4 linked regions of the Homo sapiens genome follow. The protein of the gene in region 2 purifies or fractionates together with the protein of the main gene of each other region. This does not show direct contact. Each region holds a gene or a part of one and is shown on either strand. Other genes may lie near its edges.

Evidence for each region.
Region 1: the proteins of RITA1 (region 2) and COLGALT2 purify together in Homo sapiens (affinity purification with mass spectrometry; one large-scale study listed by BioGRID and IntAct). This does not show direct contact.
Region 3: the proteins of RITA1 (region 2) and PPP3CC purify together in Homo sapiens (affinity purification with mass spectrometry; one large-scale study listed by BioGRID and IntAct). This does not show direct contact.
Region 4: the proteins of RITA1 (region 2) and PSMB7 purify together in Homo sapiens (affinity purification with mass spectrometry, with the first as the bait; one study listed by BioGRID). This does not show direct contact.

The regions. Positions count from the first base shown.
Region 1 is NC_000001.11:183,974,881-183,978,796, reverse strand, and holds part of COLGALT2 (procollagen galactosyltransferase 2), read left to right. Parts: intron 1-276; coding exon 277-387; intron 388-3,582; coding exon 3,583-3,700; intron 3,701-3,916. UniProt on the Homo sapiens protein: Beta-galactosyltransferase that transfers beta-galactose to hydroxylysine residues of collagen.
Region 2 is NC_000012.12:113,187,902-113,193,835, reverse strand, and holds the end of RITA1 (RBPJ-interacting and tubulin-associated protein 1), read right to left. Parts: intron 2,527-5,934; coding exon 2,019-2,526; 3' UTR 1,468-2,018; downstream 1-1,467. UniProt on the Homo sapiens protein: Tubulin-binding protein that acts as a negative regulator of Notch signaling pathway.
Region 3 is NC_000008.11:22,524,510-22,528,425, reverse strand, and holds part of PPP3CC (serine/threonine-protein phosphatase 2B catalytic subunit gamma isoform), read right to left. Parts: intron 1,035-3,916; coding exon 909-1,034; intron 1-908. UniProt on the Homo sapiens protein: Calcium-dependent, calmodulin-stimulated protein phosphatase which plays an essential role in the transduction of intracellular Ca(2+)-mediated signals. Dephosphorylates and activates transcription factor NFATC1.
Region 4 is NC_000009.12:124,405,095-124,409,010, forward strand, and holds part of PSMB7 (proteasome subunit beta type-7 precursor), read right to left. Parts: intron 339-3,916; coding exon 223-338; intron 1-222. UniProt on the Homo sapiens protein: Component of the 20S core proteasome complex involved in the proteolytic degradation of most intracellular proteins. This complex plays numerous essential roles within the cell by associating with different regulatory particles.

The DNA of each region.
Region 1 (3,916 bases), on a different chromosome or scaffold from region 2:
GTGTTTTCATGTGTTTATTTATTAATGCAACCATTTACACGTTCTCCAATTGGCTGAGCCCTGTTTTAGGATCTAATGACACAAAGATGATTTTAAGCAGTGTCTCTCACTTTGGAAATTTATTGTCTAGTTTGGACTATGAGGGAATTATTTTCATATATACAATTTTTTTTCCAGGAGTAGCCATTCTTCTTTCAGTTAGTCAGGGGTCTTTTGGATTTCCCTCTCTTTCATTGGATGACATAGTTAAACTATATTGTGCTTTCTCTCATGCAGGGCAGCCACTGATCACAATGTGGATAATACAACAGAAATATTCAGGGAGTGGTTGAAAAATGTACAGAGACTCTATCACTATGTGGAGTGGAGGCCTATGGATGAACCAGAGTGAGTAGCAAGTGCGAAATTTGTAAACTCATTATTTACCCTTCCTCTTTAACTAGCTCTTTAGGGCTTCCAGGTTTGGAGGTACATGTGACTTTTCATTGTCTTTCATTTCTGTAGCTATGTGAGTTCTGAATATCTGCCATTTCTCCCTTTTAGAGATCTTCACAGTACTCTCTTGCTGTTTACTCCCACAGCTGCCAGCCAAGTTCAGATTTTCATTACTTCATAAATAAATTGCCATGACAGTTTATATTTTTAAATATTGATATTATTTATTCATATTTTAAACAAACTTTTATATTTGGAGGATCATATTGAAAATGTGTATACTTTCTACATAGAGCTTGCTTTTTTCAACTTTTATCTTGATAATCATTCTATAGCAATAGTTAAGGAGCTAATTTTCATTTTTTTTACTGCATAATCACTGTTGTATGTGCATTTACCATAATTATTTAATTGATCCCCTACTGATGCTCATTTAGGTAATTTCCTATCTTAACCATAGAAATTCCTTCTTTCTTTCTTTTCCTTCTTTTCTTTCTTTTCTTTTCTTCGCTTCTCTTCTCTTCTTTCTCTCTCTCTCTCTCTCTCTCTTTCTCTCTTTCCTTCTTTCTTTCAAGACAGGGTCTCACTCTGTCACCCCAGCTGGAGTACAGTGGCATGACCATAGCTCCACTGTAACCTCGTACTCCTGGGTTCAGGCAATACTCCTCACTCAACCTCCTGAGTAGCTAAGACCACAGCCATGCACCACTATGCCTGGCTAATTTTATTTTTATTTTTTGTAGAGACATGATCTCACCATGTTGTCCAGGCTGGTCTTGAACTCCTGGCCTCAAGCGATCCTCCCACCTTGGCCTTCCAAAGTGCTGGGATTACAGGTGTGAGCCTTTGTGCCTGGTTACCATAACAATTTCTTTCTTTTTTTTTTTTTTTGAGACAGAGTCTTGCTATGTCACCCAGGCTGGAGTGCAGTGGTGCAATCTTGGCTCACTGCAACCTCCGCCTCCTGGGTTCAAGCAATTCTCCTGCCTCAGCCTCCCGAGTAGCTGGGACTACAGGTGTGTGCCACCACACCCAGCTATTTTTTTGTATTTTGAGTAGAGAGGGGATTTCACTATGTTAGCCAGGATGGTCTCGATCTCCTGACCCTGTGATCTGCCCGCCTTGACCTCCCAAAGTGCTGAGATTACAGGTGTGAGCCACCGTGCCCGGCCACCATAGCAATTTATTAATTGCTTCTATCTCCAAGTCATCCTACATACCATACAGTCAAATCAATCTACCTCAAATACAAATGAAATGGTTTCATTTCTTTATTAAAAATACTTCACTTACTCTTTAGGACCTGAACAAAGTTCAAACACCTAAGACTTATATTTTTAAAATTCCATGAATTTAGCACCAAAAGAAAATGTGCTTTATCCAGAACGTTTCTTTTATTTCCAAACCCCACACTGTTGCTTGTGCAGGTCCTGGAAGACCCTTTCCTTCTTTATAACTAATTCTTATCCTAAATCATGCCTACTATAGAAACCTATTCTTAATCACTCAGTTATAAATATCTACCTTTGTCTCAACAATTGTATTGCTTATATTCTATGTCATCCTTTTTGGCACAATGATATACGCAACCAACATTTTCCCCCTATGCAATTAATGTATTTTTTTTCTAAATAAGTTGTAAGTTCTTTGGCAGGGGCTAGAATATATAAACACTTTATATTCCCCCTCTCCCCTCAGAGCCATGTTCTTGGCAGGCACTAAATTAATACTGGTTGGATGAACAAATAAGAACAAGAATAAATGTATTTAAAACTTACTATTATAAATGTTCCCAAAGCTACTACAGTTTTACTTTAAGGAACTGTAGAAATAGAATGAAGGAGTTGCCTGAATTTCTTCCCCAGAGAAGTCATTTATTGAAAGCCAAATTTGTATTATAGTAATAATAAATGCCATTCCAGAACAAGTTTCTGTTCTTCTAGTCTTTCTATATGTAAGAATTATTATAAATATTTATATTATAAAGAAATATATATAAATATGATATAATATATACATATGTGTTTCTCAAATCCAAGCCCATGGACTGTATATCAAGCAAAATTTAACAGTGAAGTCTGAACACCGTAAAAGATTGTAAACACTCCTTTAGAGTGCCTTATAATGGAGTTTGGCCTAACAAAAATGGCACAGAAATACTTTGTGTCCCTTCTTTGCACCTTGGTAATGTTCTCTGCAGCCAGGTTTTGACTAAATATATTATATGCCAAGGTCAGTGTGAAAAAATATTAGAACAGGCATTTTTGGGGGGAATATATTTAGAAAAATGAGAATTCCACTGATTTTCATTGAAACAATAACTGGGGAAGATATTCCAGAGAATTCCTGTGCTGTACATAGTTTTATTAACCTTATTTGTTTAGTTACAGTCTCATTGTTTTTGCAGTTTTTCACTCACTAAAACAAATGTACTGCCAGTGCAGCTATGAGATCTTGAAGTGGTGGCCAGTTTTGGGTTACTGCAACAGTATCAATGTCCGTGCCAGCTGGGTGCCTTCAGAAGGGTTTTGGAGCGTGCTCCAACCCACTTGCCTATGTGGCCATGAAGGAGTCTTGGCCTGGCTGTTTTGTGAATCTTGATAGAGATCCCACGACCTCACTTTACCTAAGATAGATCAATGTGTTAGGCTGTGTGGAATCATTTGTGGAGACTCCAACAAGTAGATTAAACCTTTGATTTTCCTGGGAAACTCATGTTTTACACTGCATACTCTCCAAATCTATTCGATGTCGGGATGTATAAAAATTGTCTAGGAACATGAGCTTTTTGCTTGGATTCAAATCTTGATTGTGCCCCATTGTGTAACATTGGACGAATGACTTAACTGCTCTACCCTGATATCCTCACCTGTGAAATGCAGAGAATAGCAGTACTCACCTCAAAGGGCTCTCATTAGAACCCACTGAAATATTTCATGTAAAGATTCTTGTATACAATGAGCAGTGAGTTACTTGACTTCTCATTGCTCCGGTTTCCTCATCTGTAATATGGGGATGATGATAACAATAATAATAGTATCTACTTCCTGGGATTGATAGAAGATTAAATGAATACATATAAACATTTAGGACAGAGCCTGGTACATGTAGGCACTCAATAATGATGAGCTATTATTATTATTTTAGGTCTTACCCTGATGAAATTGGACCAAAGCACTGGCCAACCTCCCGGTTTGCCCATGTGATGAAACTACGACAGGCAGCCCTTCGAACTGCGAGGGAAAAATGGTCAGACTACATTCTGGTAAAAACAGATGTTTGATTTCTTGACAACTGTCATCTCAGGTGTATCCAAATCAGTCGTCCAAAAACTAGAACCATGGAAGCAATCAAAACAACCTTTTTGATTAGGCAGTGCCTCCCCCACTTTTTAAGAAAGGCACAATGAAATTTTTGGTAGTTTAAAATTGGGCTACCTGGACTTCATCTTCAGGCCCACATGCATTTTCAGTGGGTAAGT
Region 2 (5,934 bases):
AAGTTCCAGGAAGCTTAAACATTCTATATGTTTAAAATGCACATTGCAGCTGGGCGAGGTGGCTCACACCTGTAATCTCAGCACTTTGGGAGGCTGAAGCGGGAGGATCACTTCAGGCCAGGAGTTTGAGACCAGCCTGTACAACATAGTGAGACTCATGTCTCTTTTTTTTCCCTTTTTTTCTTGTTTCTTACTGGAAGGAATGAAATCCCTCTCTATAAATTTTTTTTTTTTTTTTTGAGACAGAGTCTCGCTCTGTTGCCCAGGCTGGAGTGCAGTGGCACGATCTCGGCTCACTGCAAGCTCCGCCTCCTGGGTTCACGCCATTCTCCTGCCTCAGCCTCCCATGTAGCTGGGACTACAGGCGCCTGCCACCGCGCCCGGCTAATTTTTTGTATTTTTAGTAGAGACAGGGTTTCACTGTGTTAGCCAGGATGGTCTCGATCTCCTGACCTCGTGATCCGCCCGCCTCGGCCTCCTAAAGTGCTGGGATTACAGGCATGAACCACCGCGCCCAGTCCAAAAAAATTTTTAAAAGAAGTTAGCCAGGCATGGTGGTGCATGCATGTAGTCCCCGCCACTCAGGAGGCTGAGGGGGAGGATGGCTTGAGCCGGGAGGTCAAGTCAGCAGTGAGCTATGATCGCACCACTGCACTCCAGGGTGGGCAAGGAAACGAGGCCCCGTGTCTTAAAAAACAAAACAAAACAAAAAAAAGAAACACCAAAAACAAACAAACATACAAACAAACAAACAAAAAACAAAGCATGTTTGCATGAGAGCACAGCTGGCCTGCCTGACCCCACAGGTGTTTCTGTGTGTCACTGGTCCTGGGCACTGCAGGTCTCCCTCCCCAGCAGTGTCCACTCTTCCCTGCCCCAAGGCAGACGTACCAACCAGATGATGTGGCTTCCAACTGGACTCCCTAAAATCCTGGTGCCTCCTGGAGGTGCCTTACAGGAAGACGGGGGCAAGGAGAGGCCCAGAGCCCAGCCCACACTGCCCAATCTGGGTGCAATTCCATCTGCGCAAAGGCTTTGTTGCTTTTCCTAAGTCCTGGGCTGCATCCTAAGTGCTCTGCAGACACACATGTCACTGTCTGGCTTTCTTGGACCCTCCACTTGGCAAAGTCCTAGCCATTGTGTTTTATTTCCCACCTTAACACACACACACACACACACACACACACACAAACAAACTTAAAAACAAAACTAAAAAAATACTATTGTCTGTACTCTGAGCTAAGGAAGAGCCGGCCAACCACAAGTTAGTGGCATTAGCCAGAAGCCGACGGGAGGAAGAGTCCAGCGCTTCCCGAAGCCCCAGATTCCCAAACTTCAGTTACCCACTCACCGCTGTCATGTTGCCTGCCACATCCTTGTACTATCTGTTGTATTTAACTTTGTTATTTAAATCAACTCAGGCCTAACAATGGCCTTTACCCTGAGGGGGAAAAAAAGTGACATTCATGGCTTTGATGAGCTGATCTATTTAGTACATGAAAATAAATTCAGAAGCATATTAAGATGAAACAGTGTTCACTCACAAATCTCCCAGTTGCCGTTGTGTTCCCCAGGCTTCACAGACAGCCTGGAAAAACTCCTCTAGGGCTTGCAGACTTAGCTGGAAACTAATCCTGAGCAGGAAGCTTGGCTTGAAGGGATAAGAGGGGACCCTCCAGGTTGGCAATCACGCCGTTTATTCGCACTTGGCAGCAAGACAATGGATGATGTGGGAGGTGCCAGGCCCCTGGGTTGGCACTAATTTGGAGTATGGTTGAGACAGGGCTGGAGAGAGGCATCTTAGAGGTGGCCCCCAAATCCGCAATCGGGAGAAAAAGGCAAGAATCGACTAGAGATTGTCAGGATAAAGGGAGGCACTGCCCACCCCTGCTATGTCTGTCTGCCCCCACAGGGGCTTCTTTAATACCTGGGGTTCCCTGGGTGATGAATGTCCTCCTACCCTGGCAAGGGGCCATACCTGTCGCCGTGGCCCCATAGGCAACCCTGATGAAAGAGTATCATTTCCAAGGGGGCTTTGGTTTCTGGGTGGCCCCACCTCGTCGTGGGGTAGATGGCACTGAAATGCTAACTGAGCGAGCCCTGGAAGTCACCAGGGGGCTCCGGAAGGTCACCCCTGACGTGGAAGGCCTGAGATCCTGAGGCCCATTTGTGTGGGGGGCACTGGTGGCTGGATGACCAGTGCTGGGGACATTCAGGTGGGTGAGGGAATGGGAAAGTCCCCGCTTCAGGGGGCGTGAAGAGTGTAACCCACCCATAGATAACTTCTGGGAGTCTGCCGCTGGCCCCGGCTCTGTCTTGGAGGGACCAGCTGGGTGAATGGCTCGCAGTGGTGCCTCCCTGGGGCGGGGCGAGTGGCTACCCCTGGGGGTAGGTGGTGGCGTCCACAAGAGAGCACGGAGCTTTGCGGCATCCCCCTTCGCCATCCGCGGGGCCCCGAAGCTGGCGCCTTCAGATCGGGAGCCAAACAGCGACTCATCACAGTAAGACGGGGTGTGGCTGATGGGTCTGGCAAATGGAAGATAAACGCCATGAGCTGGGGGATGAACAACCCCTCAAAACTTTAACAGCTCTCCCACCCACCCTGGGATGGCAGCAGCAGAGGAGGGTTGCCTGCAGATCCCAGGAGTCCTTGTCTCCCAGTCTGAAACCTACAGCGAGGCCACAGCCTCTTAAGCACCACTGCCCCCGGTCTCTGCTGATTTTCCCTGCGAAACATCCACTGCCCCTGCATCCTGACCCCATTCCCAGACATGTGCCCCAGGCCTGGACAATTTGCATATTCCATCCTCCTGGCCACATGGATTGGTTCACGAATGGCCAGATGACCCAAGCCTGTCCAATCAGAATCTGCCTTAGGACCTTGCAGAAACCACTAGGAAAGAGATGTCTTTCTGCCACCTGACTTTACTTCTTGCTAAGCTGATAGGATGTCAGCCCAAAGCAGCTTGTGGCTATCTCCTTCCTACTGAAGATTGAAGGGCATGCAGGGAAAAGCAGCACTAAGGTGGAGACAGACAGTTCCAGCCACAGTTTGAGCCCCTGTTACAGGAGCCCCACATGCCTTCTCCTGGGGAAGCCAGTTTGAATAAGTTTTCTGTCACTTGCAATTGAGAGTCACAATTAGTATAACCTTAGTCTTTATAGCCTCCACTTTTTCTTTTCTTTGTGAGACACGATCTCACTCTGTTGTTCAAGTGGAGTGTAGTGGCACAGTCACAGATCACAGCAGCCTCAAATTCCTGGGCCCAAGCAATCCTCTCACCTCAGCCTCCCTAATAGCTGGGACTACAGGCACAGTGCCACCAAGCCCAGCTAATTTTTTTGTTTTTGATTTTTAGTAGAGATCAGATTTATGTTGCTCAGGCTGGTCTTGAGTTCCTGAACTCAAGCAGCCCCCTGCCTTAACCTCTCAAAGTGTTAGGATTGCAGGAGTAAGCCACCGTGCCCATTTTCTTTTCTTTCTTTCTTTTTCTTTTTTTTTCTGAGACAGAGTCTCGCTCTGTCACCCAGGCTGGAGTGCAGTGGTGCAATCTCAGCTCACTGCAACCTCCGCCTCCTGGGTTCAAGCGATTCTCCTGCCTCAGCCTCCTGAGTAGGCGGGATTACAGGCATGTGCTACCATGCCCAGCTAATTTTTGTATTTTTAGTAGAGACGGGGGGGGTTTCACCATGTTGGCCAGGCTGGTCTTCAATTCCTGACCTCATGATCTACCCACCTCGGCCTCCCAAAGTGCTGGGATTACAGGCAAGAGTCACTGCGCCCGGCCTTTTTTTTTTTTTTTTTTAAGAGACAGGGTCTCACTCTGTCACCCAGGCTGGAGTGCAGTGACGCTCGCTGCAGCTGCGAACTCCTGAGCTCAAGTAATCCTCCCACTTCAGCCTCCAGAGTAGCTGGGACTACAGGTATGCACCACTATGCCCTGCTAATATTTTTATTTTTTGTAGAGACAGGGATCTCACTATGTTGCCCAGGCTGGTCTCAAACTCTGGAGCTCAAGCGATCCTCCCACCTCAGCCTCCCAAAGTGCTGGGACTACAGGCCTGAGTCAGCCTGTCTGGCCTTTTTTTTTTTTTTTTTTTTTATTCAACAGATATTCACGGCATACCTGCAAGATTCCACGCCCATAGTTTTTTTGGCCAGGACTGAAAGTGCTTCTATCCCCAAACTGCAAGTCTTTGAAAGGGCAAGCTTTTGCCACTTGGTTTAGCTGCTCAAACCACATTGGCTAATGCCTGTATATGTCTGGTGCCAAGGTTTTTGCTCAATAACTTCTCTACCTCTTATGCAACCCCTCACTTGACACCCTCTACCTGTTGGCATCCAGAAGAAAATTCCACCCTCCAGGTGAGCAAGGAGTTGTCACCTCCCTTTTCATGGACACCATACTTCCTAATGCAGCCTATCTTTACCTCAGTGTTTTCAGCCATGTTGTAGGTATCAGTGTTGCTAATCTCCACCTGACCCTGCCTTGTCTACAGAACTGGCAATAACTGATTCTTGTTTTTATAATAGGTATCATTCCCATTCTCATTTCATTTCTCTCATCTGAAATATGTCCCTGTGGTTCAGAATGAACCCTAACTTTAGCTGGCCAGTTCTTATGGACTGAATTGTGCCCACCCAAATTCATATGTTGAAGCCCTAACCCCAAATGTCTCTACACTTGGCCTTAATTATTTAGATTAATTAAAGGTAATTAAGGCTGGCCAGACATGGTGGCTCACATCTGTAATTCCAGCACTTTGGAAAGCAGAGGCGGGAGAACGACTTGAGCTCAGGAGTTTGAGACCAGCCTGGCCAACACAGTGAAACCCCGTCTCTACTAAAAATACAAAAATTAGCCAGGCATGGTGGCGTGCACCTGTAATGCCAGCTACTCGGGAGGCTGAGGCAGGAGAATTCCTTGAACCCGGAGGTGGAGGCTGCAGTGATCCGAGATGGTGCCACTGCACTCCAGCCTGGGCGACAGAGCCAGACTCCATCTCAAAAAAAAAAAAAAAAAAAAAAAAAAAAAAAAAAAAAAAAAGGTAACTAAGGCTAAATAACATTATAAGGGTAGGGGATCCTAATCCAATAGAACTGGTGTCCTTATGAGAGGAAGAGACATCAGGGGTGTGTGTGTATACAGAAAAGGCCCTTGCATGTAATTGAAGGATTAAAAAAAAATGAGAAAAGGCCCTATGATGACACTGTGAGAACGTGGCCAACTGCAAGCCAAGGAGAGAGGCCTCAGGAGAAACCAAACCTGCCAACACCTTGATCTTGGGCTTCCAGCCTCCAGACTGTGACAAAATAAATTTGTGTTGTGGCCAGGCGCGGTGGCTCATGCCTGTAATCCCAGCACTTCGGGAGGCCAAGGCAGGTGGATCACCTGGTCGGGAGTTCAAGATCAGCCTGACCAACATGGAGAAACCCCGTCTCTACTAAAAATACAAAATTAGCCAGGCATGGTGGCGTAATCCCAGCTACCAGGGAGGGTGAGGCAGGAGAATCGCTTGAACCTGGGAGGCAGAGGTTCAGGTTAGCTGAGATGGCTCCACTGCACTCCAGCCTGGGCAACAAGAGCAAAACTCCGTCTCAAAAAAAAAAAAAAAAAATTAAGTCAGGCATGGTGGCATGTGCCTGTAGTCCCAGCTACTCAGGAGACTGAGGCAGGAGAGTCGCTTGAACCCGGGAGGTGGAGGTTGTGGTGAGCCAAGATCGTGCCACTGCACTCCAGCCTGGGCAACAGAGCGAGACTCCATCTCAAAAAAAAAAAAAATTGTGTTGTTTAAGCCACCCAGTCTGTGGTATTTTGTCATGGTGGCCCTAGCCAACTACTGTGCTAATCTTCTGTGTCTTTGTCCAAACCACTGATAACAATAAACAGGACAGAGCCCTGTGGCTCACCACTAGACACCTCCCTCCAGGCT
Region 3 (3,916 bases), on a different chromosome or scaffold from region 2:
CACATGTTAAGTAAGCATAAGCAAAAATTATTTATCATTATGTTAGTAAGAATAGCTATAAAAAGTAGCATAAATGTAAACTTTCAGGTTTAAAAAGAATTTGGGTAGATTACTTGCTCCAGTAAAAGTCTGGAGTCTTTGAAGATCTATTGCCTAATTACTTGATTTTACCGGATTGCTGTTCAGAGCTTCTTCCCACACTGATACACACGTGAGAAAATTTTTTTCCCACTTTACAAAGTTAAGCCAACAGGCCTACGTCCAACAGGCTTAGCTAATTTGAGTAGCTGTACAAATAAAATTGTAAGGACAATAAATTCTGTTTAAATCTCTTCAGTACTGAAGAAATCTGAGGGAATGACAAGTAACTATGTTATTTTAACATCTTGATCATAGTAGGTCAGCTACTTTAAATTGATATTTACAATAAAAAAACCATAATATATTAAAATTTAAGAACCAATTACATGCCATTTACAAATCTATGTAGAGGCTGGGCACGGTGGCTCACACCTGTAATCCCAGCACTTTGGGAGGCTGAGGAGGGCGGATCACTTAAGGTCAGGAGTTTGAGACCAGCCTGGCCAATATGGTGAAACCCTGTCTCTACTAAAATGCAAAAATTAGCCGGGTGCAGTGGCACGTGCCTATAATCCCAGCTCCTCAGAAGGCTGAGGCAGGAGAATTGCTTGAACCTGGGAGGCGGAGGTTGTAGTTAGCTGAGATCGTGCCACTGCACTCCAGCCTGGGTGACAGAGCGAGACTCCATCTCAGAAAAAAAAAAAAAAAATCTATGTAGAGAACAAACAAAATTAGAAAACATTTCTGAATCATGGAGGGGCTCATGCAAATATAAGGTATGCTCAGTCACCAAACAACTGATGAGACATGTGCTTTAGTTCTCTTACCTTTTTCCCCAACAAAAGGCAAAGACCATGTGAAAACATCCATAAAGTTTGGAAGCCAGTAGGGGTGTGGAGAACAGTTAAACTGCCTGATATTCATGACATTGTTTTCATATTTCAACACAGCAGCTAAAAAGGAAAAAAGCAAGAAAATCTGGCACAGAGGAACATGGCATGGCAAGTGGTATGCTTTGTACAGCTGTGTACCTGCTACACAGAATTCGAGAACTTTCCATTTGTAAAGTCAGGACTTGACTAGGTAAAGGGCAGATGGAAAATTTTAAAGCCTTTTATTCAGTTCATTCTCTTAAGAATTATTCCAAGGAACAAAGTTACCTGAAGAGCTCATATAATAAAAGTACAAAAGAAACTGAAACTTTGGAGTCACTGCACAGTAACTATCTATATAAACCTCAAGATCCACGTGAGGAAAATTTCCCCATAATTTCCTTTTATAGGCCAAATGGTTATAATTACAACTCTCCTTTGAAGGCAAAAATTACTCATTAAATGGACACAGCCTGTTTTGCTAGTCATTAGCCAGAGTCAAAGATTGTATACACTCTCTGGGAGTTTATATATTGCAGTTATCAACTCATACTGGAAGATACAAATGGCAAACTTGGAGCAATTTACAATTAAATGTTCAAAATTAGATTAAGTCATCTCTGTATTCAATATAGCGGATTTTAAAATTGCCGATTTCTCCAATACACAGCAGTGTATTGCCAGCATGCTATGTTTAATATTAACCATTCAGATAGTCGCACACATACTTTGATGCCAAACTGATTTTCTTTATATTTTGAAAGTCTTAAAATCCAATTCCTTAGCCTTTATCACCAGCAATGTTGTTTGCACTATTCTCTTAATTATTCTGTGGTCATAAAATAAAACAGGGTGTAACAGTTCTCCAGAAATGACAGATATAGGTCACGTCCTCATTCCTGTTTCTTTGCTACAGGATAATCTAGTGTTCTTAAAATTTAAGTTATTGAATGTCTAAAATGTACACCATATATTATTAAGAAAATAAATTAAAATATAGTTTCTAGCACTTAAAAAGCCTAACACTGGCTATGATGTACATGTTCCATTATTTTCACGTGTATGTATTTTATTTAGTTTAGGTAAATATGTCATATATCATTATTCAACAACTCCCTCAATTTCTACCCAGGAAAAAGAAGTGGGAGGTGAGTCTCAACAGTGAATGACTGGAAACAAGAGCTTATAAAACTGCTTTTGGGTGTGTTCCCAGTGGACAGAAGAAAACAAGAATAAGAATCTTTAAAAATCATGATTAAAGGTCTTTCGTGTAACTAGTGGAACTAGGAAATACCTGTAGATACCAAGAAGTCTAAAGAATATGAAAGAGCACTCCTAGCACTTTGGGAGGCCGAGGTGGGCAGATTGCCTGAGCTCAGGAGATTGAGACCAGCCTGGGCAACATGGTAAAACCCCGTCTCTACTAAAATAAAAAAAATTAGCCAGGCGTGGCGACGTGCACCTGTAGTCCCAGCTACTCGGGAGGCTGAGGCGGGAGAATTGCTTGAACCCGGGAGGCAGAGGTTGTAGTGAGCCAAGACCGCACCACTGCACTCCAGCCTGGGCAACACAGTGAGACTCTGTCTCTGAAAAAAAAAAAATAATATGAAAGAGGCCAGGTGTGGTGGCACACACTTGTAATACCAGCACTTTGGGAGGCCGAGGCAGGAGGACTGCTTAAGCTCAGGAGTTTGAGACCAGTCTGGGCAACATAACGAGACCCTATCTCTATAAAAAATATTTTAAAATTAGCCAGGTGTAGCGGCATGCACCTGTGGTCCCAGCTAGTTGGGAGGCTGAGGTGGGAGGATCACTTGAGCCCAGGAAGTCGAGGCTGCAGTGAATCAAGTTCCTGCCACTGTGCTCCAACCTAAGTGACAGAGACCGAGAGAAAGAGAGAGAGAGAGAAAGAAAGAGAGAGAGAGAGAGGGAGAGAAAGAAAGAAAGAAAGAAAGAAAGAAAGAAAGAAAGAAAGAAAGAAGAAAAGGAAGCAGAAAGAAAAAGAAAGAAAAGAAAGAGAGAGAGAAAGAGAGAGAAAAGAAAAGAGAGAAAGAGAAAGAAGAGCAACAGTAGAAGAAAAGGAAGAAGAAAAAGAATAATAGAGTTCCCTTTTTCAGAAAAGAAGGCACTTGTATGGGGAGTAACTGAGTACCCCCAGGGACTGTTTCAAATGCCACATTTTCTGCCTTTTTCCTTCTAAAATGCCTAAGAAACAACCAATGAAAATAAGACTGTTTTGAGATAAAAGTTACTAATTATGTCAAAGCCGACAGAATACTCAGGTAGAATGAACTGTGGCTTTTACTTTTTTTTTTATTTTTTAGAGACAGGGTCTTGCTCTATTGCCTGGCTGGAATGCAGTGGTGTGATCACAGCTCACTGCAGCCTCGAACTACTGGACTCAAAGGATCCTACTGCCTCAGCCTCCTGAGTAGCTAGGACTATAGGCATGCTCCACCTTGCCTGGCTAACTTTTAAATTTTTCTTTGTAAAGATGGGGTCACATTTTGCTGCCCAGGCTGGTCTTGAATTCTAGGCCTCAAGTGATCCTCCCCTTGGCCTCCCAAAGTGCTGAGATTACAGGCATGAGCCACTGTGCCTGGCCAGGACTGTGATGTTAAAAGTTTGCTAAAGAAATAATCAAGAACAAAACCAGGTTAGATTGAGACAAAAAACAAGCTAGCAGTGAGTGAGCTGTATAGTGCCTGCTGACTTAGGTGGCGTGTTTCAGCTTGGCACACTGATAAATCCATTGAGCAATCAATAGATACTCTTTTTGATGAAGTTAAAAAAGAAAGTGAGAAAGAAACACCTTCATTACAAATAGGAGATCTAGGGCCACAAGAGTCCTTGAAGACGTTTAACAACACAAACAGTCCACACCATTGATAAGAGAATAAATAAGAATAAAACCTAAGTTGCTAATATACTGGAAATATCAGGAAAAAGGAAATAACAAATGA
Region 4 (3,916 bases), on a different chromosome or scaffold from region 2:
AAAATCCTCGAGAGCAGGAATCACTATCAGAATTGTGTTGACTGCTATATAGCAAGCACCTAGAACACGGCCTAATCTATAGTAGGAACTCAGTATATATTTGCTGAATGAATCAAAGCATTGTATTGCACCTCCTCTTCTAAGAGAAAACAGACCAGCTCTTCAAGAGACCATCGTGGTAAGTAAGAGTACTCTTAAACATCAGGAAAACGTTACACTCACCCATGGTGACATAAGGCAACTTATCAGTTGATCCATGAGGATAGATGCTGTAGAGGTGAGGTCCAGTAACATCTACTCCCCCTAAAACTAGGGCTGCACCAATGTAACCTTGATACCTGGTGATCAGAGTATGCATAAGAAAAAAAACATGAGTCCACAAAGCATCACTGTAACTTAGCCAAAAGTTGCATGAGAAGTCAGGTAACAAAAAGTTTTCCTTAAGACTGTTTCATTAAGGGGTTATTGTTTTGATGGGAACAAAAAAGGGAAGGGAACATTAGATGAACATCTACTGTCAGCCAGTATAAACTATAAATTATGTGAGGCACTCCACACACCTGATTTCAGCTCAGCCTCACAGCCCCCATTATTATTATTTTTTTGAGACAGGGTCTCACTCTGTCACCCAGGCTGCAGTACAGTGGTATTATCACGGCTCACTGCAGCCTCAACCTCCCCAGGCTCAAGCAATCCTCCCACCTCAGCCTCCTAAGTAGCTGGGACTACAGGTGTGCACCACCACACCTGGCTAATTTTTGTATTTTTTTTTGGAGAGATGGCGTCTCGCCAAATTGCCCAGGCTGGTCTCAAACTCCTGGACTCAAGCAATCCTCCCACCTTGGCCTCCCAAAGTGCTGGGATTACAGGTGTGAGCCACCACACCCAGCCCACAGTCCCCTTTAAAAGACAACATTATCATTCCCATTTTAGAAAAGAAAAAACCAACCCAGAGACATTAAGAACTTGCCCGGTCTCAGAACCAAATTGGACTGACTCCAAAGATTATCAGCACTTTTCCCATCACACCTCTCTGTGATCAGCACATAAGCTACCTCCACAGTTAACAATGAGGAGGTGCTAAGCTCAGCTGTTCCACTGTTCAAATTATCAACCTGGCCACAAAGGCCAGGCATGGTGGCTCACACCTATAATCCCAGCACTTTAGGAGGCTGAGGTGGGCAAATCACTTGAGTCCAGGAGTTCAAGACCAGCCTGGGCAATATGGCGAGACCCTGTCTACAAAAAATACAAAAAATTAGCAAGGCATGGTGGCATGTACCTGTAGTCCCAGATACTTGGGAGGCTAAGGTGAGAGGATCCCTTGAGCCTGGGAGGCAGAGGTTGCAGTGAGCCATGTACACGCCACTGCACTCCAGCCAGGACAGAGCAAGAGTTGTCTCAAAAAAAAAAAAAAAAAAAAAAAGTATCAACCTCACCACAGCCCAAACAGAAAAATGGCTCATGTCGAAACACCTCTGCCTTTGAATTAACCCATATTATAATTACATATATGAACTCGTATCAAAAAAAAAGTATTTCATCATTCAGGAAAGTGAATATTAAAATAACTCCATGATAGCCTAAGAAACCACTGCTACTACACATAGGATAAACTTACACTTCCTCAGGAACATCACAGGAATATATTTTCCACCCACACCATCTCCACTTAATTGTGCACATATTTGTTCCTTTGGACCCTTTTTTTCCATTTCTATAGATTCCTTTCCCTGTATTTGGTACAGCTTTTTAACATTAGGAGGCCAATGTTACTCCTAACGTGGGAGGCTGAGGCATGAGAATCGCTTGAACCTGGGTGGCCGAGGTTGCACTGAGCCGAGGTCGCATCACTGCACTCCAGCCTGGGCAACAGAGTGACACTTAGTCTCAAAAAATAAAAAATAAAAAAAATCAAAAGAAGAATTAGATCTACATTTGTCAACATAAATTGCTCTCAATTTATCTAGCTGTGCTAGATAAACATGCTGGATTTAAAGTTCTCCACTGTGAGCCTTTAGCTCTTTGGGAAGGAAAACAAAACTGACACATACTGAATTTGCCAAACGATGTAATCATTAAAATACAAATAAATTAACATGAGAACCAAAGTCATAACTTTAGACTGTCTGAGACATGGCCACACATCCAGAAGTGCTCTAAGTAAACAGAACAGTGGTCCAATACTTGCCCTGTTCCTTGATTACCAAATTGTTATTTCATTTGTAAGTAAAAACTTCAAAAACTTCCTAGGAAAAGATTTTAGCAGTAGCCTAAAAAGAGAATAGAGCCCCAGACAAGGGAAGAAACTGGTCCAAGGCCCCACGTGTGAGCTAGCAGCAGGGTCAGACTAGGGCCAAGGGCTCCAGGAAGAGAAGCCACAATCGCCAGTCCCACCACCCCCAACTAGTCCAGTGCCTATTCCACTATGCCAACTGTCTACTGAACAGGGTGTTTAAATAAAGTTAATAATAATCAGCTACTTGCCTTCTAAGCTAAAATATCAACTGTTAGATGCCTTTAAAATAATCAAGATGTTTTGGCAAATTATTGAAGTCATTAAAATTTTAATAATTTATTGATCCACAAATTCTACTACCAGGACTCTATTCTAAGGATATAAACAGACAAATGTACAGAAATGAATGCACAAGGATGTTTACAACAGCATTGTTTATGATGATTAAAAAAGTGGAAACAGCCAGGGAGAAATGGCTAAACTGATCCAACTGTACAACAGAACATCACCCAATCATTAAAAATCATGCTAAGCCGAGTGTGGTGGCTCACACCTGTAATCCCAAAACCTAGGGAGGTCATGGTAGGAGGATTACTTGAGGCCAGGAGTTTGAGACCAGCCTAAGCAACATAGTGAGACATCGTCTACAAAAAGTTTAAAAAAACAAACACAACAAAAAATTAGACAAACATGGTGGCGTGGGCCTTTAGTCCCAGCTACTCAGGAGGCTGAGGCGAGCAGATGACTTGAGCCTAGAATTTTAAGGCTCAAGTCATCCACCATGCACTGCCTTTAAGTGAGCCATGATCATGCCACTGCACTCCAGCCTGGGCAACAGAAAGAGACCCTATCTAAACTAAAATAAAATTTAACAACCATGCTGCATTTTCTCCTGCGCTACTGACGGTAGTACAACGTTTGTCAAGGGAGAGCTTTGACAACATCTTTCAAAATGTTAAATGTGCAAAACTAAATAAATGTGCATTTATTCTAGAATACAGGCTAAGGAATTAAATCACATGAGTACCCAAGGCTTCTATGTTCCAAAGGTTCGTAGAATACCTAATAATACCTTAAATACCTTAAAATGGGCAATATCATTAATGTTTAAAAATTGGTTAAGTTGTAACATAGCCACAAAACGGATACTATGACACCACCAAAAATTATGATAATGATTAATGGTTCTTAAGCTTTTATGGGTCAGAGAGCCCTCTTAAAAATTGATTAAAATTGTGGAAATTTTCCCCCATAAGAGTACACACAAACATTTTTTCTGATTTCAGGAGAGTTACAAGTATTCAGAACTTCTCTATGGGCTCAAGAGAAAAACTCATCTACTGACAGGAACAATATTTGTAACATACCATTATGTAAACAAGGGAAATTACAAAACAACACATACAAGGATATATATCTAGAACAAAAGGTATGAAAAAACAGATCTTCAAAAATTTACAGTGTATGTGTCTAAGTGGCAGAACATCAGGTGGCATTTACTTCCTTCTATCCAGGTTTCTAGTGTCTACGTTTTTTACAATTATATTATTTTTATAATTTTAAAAAGTTATTTTCATTTTGAAATGCCCTAGTATAGAACCCATTCAAGATGCACTGTTAGGTGAGAAGACTAGGCTATACTACAGTCAGTACAACTATAATCCCATTTTCTAAATA